2 linked regions of the Homo sapiens genome follow. The protein of the gene in region 2 purifies or fractionates together with the protein of the main gene of each other region. This does not show direct contact. Each region holds a gene or a part of one and is shown on either strand. Other genes may lie near its edges.

Evidence for each region. Proteins that work in one complex are often made in the same cells at the same time.
Region 1: the proteins of HELQ (region 2) and RAD51D purify together in Homo sapiens (affinity purification with mass spectrometry; one study listed by BioGRID and IntAct). This does not show direct contact.

The regions. Positions count from the first base shown.
Region 1 is NC_000017.11:35,106,361-35,109,860, forward strand, and holds part of RAD51D (DNA repair protein RAD51 homolog 4), read right to left. Parts: intron 1,088-3,500; coding exon 1,006-1,087; intron 763-1,005; coding exon 628-762; intron 122-627; coding exon 26-121; intron 1-25. UniProt on the Homo sapiens protein: Involved in the homologous recombination repair (HRR) pathway of double-stranded DNA breaks arising during DNA replication or induced by DNA-damaging agents. Bind to single-stranded DNA (ssDNA) and has DNA-dependent ATPase activity.
Region 2 is NC_000004.12:83,428,324-83,431,823, forward strand, and holds part of HELQ (helicase POLQ-like), read right to left. Parts: intron 3,446-3,500; coding exon 3,341-3,445; intron 1,424-3,340; coding exon 1,201-1,423; intron 1-1,200. UniProt on the Homo sapiens protein: Single-stranded 3'-5' DNA helicase that plays a key role in homology-driven double-strand break (DSB) repair.

The DNA.
Region 1 (3,500 bases), on a different chromosome or scaffold from region 2:
AGGAGGGGCAGAACAGCAGGCTCACCTGCTGGGCCACAGTGCCTCGGAGCTCCTGCAGCACATCCAGCATCTGGAAGATGTCAAATGCATGCACCACCTGGATCCTCCGGAGAGCTTCTGCCTGAAGCGGTGGAAAAGAAAAGCAAGGACTTTGGATAAGAGGGAGTAGGGGGGTCAAGGTAAGGCTGAGAAGGAAGAGGCACCTGGATGCAAGGACTCAGGTCCAGGGTGGCAAATGAGCTTTGTCTAATGGTCAGTTGTCACAGTGGTGGCTGCCTGGGTGCTGAGCTGTAAAGTACTCAGAACTCAGCAGGAAAGAGGGATATGACTGATTAGTGATGTCTCTCACAGGTGAGAAATGGACTGGAAACACAAAGCTTGGTGTTTGCCAGCCCTGGTTTAGGGCATGCAAAGAGTTGGGAGGGTTTCCTGGAAGAATCAGTGTGAGTAGCATCCCAAATGGGATGATGGCATCAACAGGGGTGGCTTAAGGAATACGAGATGTATTAATAGAACAGCAAGTTTGAAGGCAAGGAATGACTATTCAACCCAAATTCTTACAATGTTAAGGGATAATGGGGTTTTCCTGTGTCAGAATCTCAATGGAACCCAGCATCCTGCCCTTACCTGTTCCTCCTCATCCTGGGTTTTAGCCTGAAGCAGCTGGAGGAGGCGGGAAGCTGTCAGCCCTCCATTGGAATCTACATATAGGACGTTTTGCTGCAGGCCATGGGCCACATTTGCTGCCATACAGAGACATACCTGGGGGTGGGGGCATTGGATGAACTTGACACTTCAGAGAGGGTCCAGATGGGAGCTCCCCACCAAACCTTGCCCAGATTCCAGCAACACAAATGGGCTGAGTCCCGACCCCATTCCTTATTACCCATCTTCTCTCTGTTGGGCTCTGAACCCATTAGTACGCTGAAGCTCCCCCAGGGACCCTGGGCTATGCATCTACCACCCTCACCCCTAAATCCTCCTGACTGCTGGCCTCACATGTACCTGAGTTTTGCCGCTACCTGGGCCTCCTACAATTTCAGTCACTTCTCCAGTATAGAGACCAGCATCAAGCAGTTTATCAAGACTGATGGCAGAAGAGAAGAAAATCAACACAAGAGGTTAGGAGGAAGACAGGGGAAAAGGTACCAAGAAGAAAAGTAAGACATTTCTTTCAAGCACTGGTTCTGTCTTTGAACATCACTGGCCAGGAGGCTTCTCCTGGTGTTTTCTTCTGGTAAGGAGGGAATGCCCAAATGTGCCTTCTCTGGTCTCTCTTCATCCCTCCACTCTTAAAGATCAGCTCTCCAGAGAGGCCTCTGCCACCCCATCAGAAGGTTCTCCCTTCATTTTTCATCTCAGGCCCTGTGGGTTTCCTTTTTTTTTTTTTTTTTTTTTTTTTTTGAGACGGAGTCTCTCTTTGTTGTCCAGGCCGGAGTGCTGGAGTGCAGTGGCGTGATCTCTACTCACTGCAACCTCCACCTCCCAGGCTCAAGTGATTTTCCTGCCTCAGCCTCCCGAGTAGCTGGGACTACAGGTGCCCGCCACCATACCCGACTAGTTTTTTTAATTAGAGACGGGGTTTCACCATGTTGGCCAGCCTGGTCTCAAACTCCTGACCTCAAGCGATCCACCCACCTCGGCCTCCCAGAGTGCTGCAATTATAGGCGTGAGTCACCACGCCCAGCTGTTTGTGGGTTTCCTTGATAGCGTTTCCCAAAATTTGTCGCTTTTTTTAAACTTTGATGGTGGCACACGCCTGTAGTCCTAGCTACTCAGGAGGCTGAGGCAGGAGAATCGCTTGAACCCAGGAGGTGGAGGTTACAGTGAGCCGAGATCACGCCACTGCACTCCAGCCTGGTGACAGAGCAAGACTCTGTCTCAAAAAAACAAAACAAACAACAACAACAACAACAAGAAAAAACAACTTTGAGATAATTATAGATTCCCAGGAAGTTGCAAAAAGTCCATGAACCCTTCACCTGGTTTACCTTAATAATAACAACTGTACTACAAAATGTATTGTACTAGCCAGGGGCCTGTAGTCTCAGTTACTTGGGAGGCTAAGGTGGGAGGATCACTTGAGTCCAGGAGTTCAAGTCTAGCCCAGGCAACATAGCAAGACCCTTTTCTCTTTAAAAAAAAAAAAAAAAAAAAAAAAAAGGACTATAGTATATCACACAAGTAGCAAACTGATGTTGGTACTATCCACAGAGCTTATTCAGATTTCACCAGTGTTCCTAGCATTCAAGCACGTGTGTTGATGTGTCTAGTCCTATGCCATTTTATCACATATGTAGATTTACACGACTACTATAATCAAGATACAGAACATTTCCATCACTATAAGTCTTCCTCCTGCTACCCTTTTATAGCCACATTCCTCCCATTCACCCCTAATCCCGAATCCCTGGCAACCACTAATCTCTATTATGTTATTTCAAGAACAAAGTTATGTACATAGAATTATACACTGTGTAACCTTTGTGATTGGCTTTTTTTCTTTTCTTTTTTTTTTTTTTTTGAGACGGAGTCTCGCTCTGTCGCCCAGGCTGGAGTGCAGTGGTGCAATCTCAGCTCATTGCAACCTCCACCTCCCAGGTTCAAGCAGTTCTCCTGTCTCAGCCTCCCGAGTACCTGGGATTACAGGCGCCCACCACCACACCTGGATAATTTTTGTATTTTTAGTAGAGACGGGGTTTTGCCATTTTGGGCAGACTGGTCTGGAACTCCTGACCTCAAGTGATCCGCCCAACACAGCCTCCCAAAGTGCGGGGATTACAGACATGAGCCACCGTGCCTGGCCCTGCGATTGGCTTTTTTACTCAGCATCATTCCCTTGAGATCCATCCCAGTTATTGCATATATGGATAGTTCATTCCTTTTTACTGCTAAAAAGTATTCCATGGTATGGATGTACCACAGTTTATTTAACCATTCATCCATTGAAGGGCATTTGGTTGTTTCCACTTTGGGGCTACTATAAATAAAACTGCTATAAGCATTTTTTACAGGTTTTTGTATAAACCCAAGTTTTTACAACGTTGGGATAAATGCCCAAGAATACAATTGCTGGGTGGTATGGTAAATGCATTATTAATTTTATAAGAAACTACCAAACTATTTTCCAGAGTGGCTATGCCATTTTACATATCCGCTAACAATGTATATATGAGTAGTCCAGTGTCTCCACATCTTCATCAGCATTTGGTATTATCATTATTTTTTTATTTTAGTCTTTCTGATAGGTATGAAATAATAGCTCACTGTGTTTTTAATTTGCATTTCCCTAATAGTTAATAGTGTTGAACTTTTTTTTTTTTTGAAACGGAGTTTCACTCTTGTTGCCCAGGATGGAGTGCAATGGCGTGATCTCGGCTCACCACAACCTCCACCTCTCAGGTTCAAGCAATTCTCCTGCCTCAGCCTCCCGAGTAGCTAGGATTACAGGCATGCACCACCACGCCTGGCTAATTTTGTATTTTTAGTAGAGACGAGGT
Region 2 (3,500 bases):
TAACAACAGACATGTATTATTTTTCATTAAAAAAAAGCCTCAGCCTGGGCACCATCGTGAAACCCCATCTCCACTAAAAATACAAAAATTAGTCAGGCATGGTGACATGCCCCTGTAGTCCCAGCTACTTGCGGGGCTGAGGTGGGAGAATCATTTGAGCCCAGGAGACGAAGGTTGCAGCGAGCTGAGATTGCGCCACTGCATTTTGGCCTCGGCAGCAGAGCAAGACCCTGTCAAAAACAAGCAAACAAACAAACCAACCAAAACAACCCCCACAACACTTTATTCACTGTCATGAAACAATCTCTAAGACATTATATTCAGGAAAAAAAGCAAGTTGCAGGCCAAATGTGTTGTCTCATGCCTGTAATCTCAGCACTTTGGGAGGCAGGAGGATTACTTTAGGTGAGAAGTTTGAGACCACCCTGGCAAACATAGCGAGATTTTGCCTCCATATTTAAAAAAAGAAAAAAAATTTTTTTAATTTATAAAAAGTTTCAGAATAATATAAATGATTATTTGTTTAAAGACAAAAACTTAAAACTGTACATATGTACATATTATGCACTGAAATGAAATGTACAGTAAAGGTCTGGAAAGATATACACCAAATTGTTATTCTTGGTAGAATATTAAGATTTGTATGGTTGCTAGGAGGGAAGCATGAAGGAGGGATGCCTACCTTATTCTCTATATACTTCTGCAGTACTTATAATTCAAAACATTTTTCAACTTTTGAAAGTTGAAGGAGTTATCAGCTTATAAAATAAGATTAATGTAATTAATATAAAATTATAAATACAACTTAAAGAAAGTATAATTTTTTATTTTTTTATTTTTGAGATGGAGTCTCGGCTCTGTTGCCCAGCCTGGAGTGCAGTGGTGTGATCTCGACTCACTGCAACCTCTGCCTCCCAGGTTCAAACAATTCCTGTGCCTCAGCCTCCCGAGTAGCTGGGACTACAGGCATGTATCACCATGCCTGGCTAATTTTTTTTGTATTTTAGTAGAGACAGGGTTTTACTATATTGGCCAGGCTGGTCTCAAACTCCCAACCTCAAGTGATCCGCTCCCCTTGGCCTCCCAGAGTGTTGGGATTACAGGCGTGAGCCACTGTGCCCAGCTTAAAGAAAGTATAATTTAATTTTCATTTTTTCCAATGTGTTTCCTATGATCAATAAGATTTAGGTAAACTCTTACCCTTAAATGAAGCACGTCCCAACTTTGTAATATGAAAATTATATTGGACCTCTTCTTCAGACTTATAAATAGTGTCTTTTTGTAGGAGTCCTTTTTCTGTCAGGTATCTAAGTGATTCAACAGTTATTTCCCAGAGACTTTTTTCTTTCAATAAAACCTTTTGCTGAACACCAAAAAATGTACCATTCATGAAATGATAGATGTCATCAAGATTCGTTGCAATCTGAAACAATTCAGGATATCATTGGAGCATTTTCCTTAATTCAAGGCATCACCTTGAATGCATATTAATCAAGATAACTCATTTCCATACCTCAAAGCTATTTAAATAAAAAATTAGTATTAAATCTACACAGTTGCATATATAAATTTATAATGGCAATTAAAAATTAACAAAAAATTTAGGGGGATGATAGTTATTATATTCATGCTTTTTATGAAAACATGTACTCATTTTTCATTCCAAAACTCCTTTGGATAGATCTTTAAATAATTTTTCACAATATCTCCAGAACTGTGCTATTTACTCCCCAACCAATTTTCACTAATTCTCACTCAGCCTCCTTTAGGGATCTTCCCTGCACTGCATTCCACCCAACTGTAAAAACATCCTTTAGCTCTAAAAGTTGCATTAAAAAAAAAAAAAGGAAAATACAACAGTTTCTGGGTGCAGCACACCAACATGGCACATGTATACATATGTAACAAACCTGCACATTGTGCACATGTACCCTAGAACTTAAAGTATAATAAAAAAAAAACAAAAAACAAAATAAATTAAAAAAAGAACTGAAAAAAAAAATACAAGTTTCCACTAAAACAGCGTCAGACAATATTTTGCCTAAAATGTTACCTAAAAATAGTTGATCTCTACCTATTTTTGTCTCTCTCATTCCTATCTCCATTTCTTGTTCTTTCACTGTTATTCACTATTTATAACTTACAATGGCAATCATAAGGAATACTTAACCCTCCATTTAGTATTCAGATGTAGAGCTGACTCTGAATTAGAATAATTTTTATTAGCCAATTTCAATGAAATCAGCATGTTATACTAAAATATAGTCAATCAATAAGTATATTTCTCTCTCTTACAATTCTGATGCTATTTCAACTGGAAAATTTAAGTCGTAATTTCATATTAAACCAATATAAGGGGTAAGAAAAATATAATGGAGCACAGACATTTTCTATTGCTTCTTCCCACTTTAATAAAAATCATTATTAATATAGTATTCAATTAAGCTAAAATTATACTTTTAAGATATTTAAGAACTGATACTTGGTTTTTGGATTATTAATGTACTTTGTTTTTGTACTGTTTCCTACCTAAATGATTAGAGTTAACACTGGGGGTGGAAGAGTGCAGGGGGGCAGGGGAACCTTTACTTGATCCCTCTATCTACCATCATGTTATCTTTCTATTCCTCCCTGAAAAAGTTTTTGACATAGTAATTGAAACCCACTGGGCCAGCCTCTGCTTCTGGCTTCTCAAATCCAGATTCTCCACTGATGCCCCAACTTGGAAGTTCACCCACGCTCAGTTCCAAAGTTAATTTCATCACCATGTCCCAGATTAAAGAAAAAACAAACAAACAAACAAACAAAACAGGCCAGGCGCAGTGGCTCATGCCTATAATCCTAGCACTTTGGGAGGCTAAGGTGGGAGGACTGTTGAGGACAAGAGTTCAAGACCAATCTAACCAACATAGCAAGACCCCATCTCTAAGAAAAAAAAAAGCCAATTTCATTAATTCAAGTATTTATTAAGTGCCAACCACTTGCCAAGCATTAGGATTCAGTGATCTTTTTTTTTTTGAGATGGGGTCTTGCTATGTTGCCCAGGCTGGTCTTGAACTCCTGGGCTCAAACGATCCTCCTGTCTCAGCCTCCCTAAGAGGTGGGATCACAGGTGTGAGCTACTGCACCTAACCATTCCATGATCTTTTAAAAATTATTTACATTAATCACTGAAGGGGATGAGAAAACAAAATTAAAAAGAAAAAAATTAAAAGAAAAAATTATTAAATAAAAAATTAGTATAAAATCTACACAGTTGCATATATAAAGTTATTGCATAACTTTTTAACCTCTATTGTCTCAGATAACAGTAATAAGATAAAAAATTTAAGAAAAATACCTTCAAACCAATCAAAGAGAGAAATAATGTTTGGATTCCCTTGGTGAATTCCTGAACAAGATGGCTGTAACAGTTTTCCAATGGTTTAGTTATTAACTCCAATACCTATAAAGGTTAAAGCAAAACCATGCCTTGTGTTATTATTAAAAATAAATGGTAT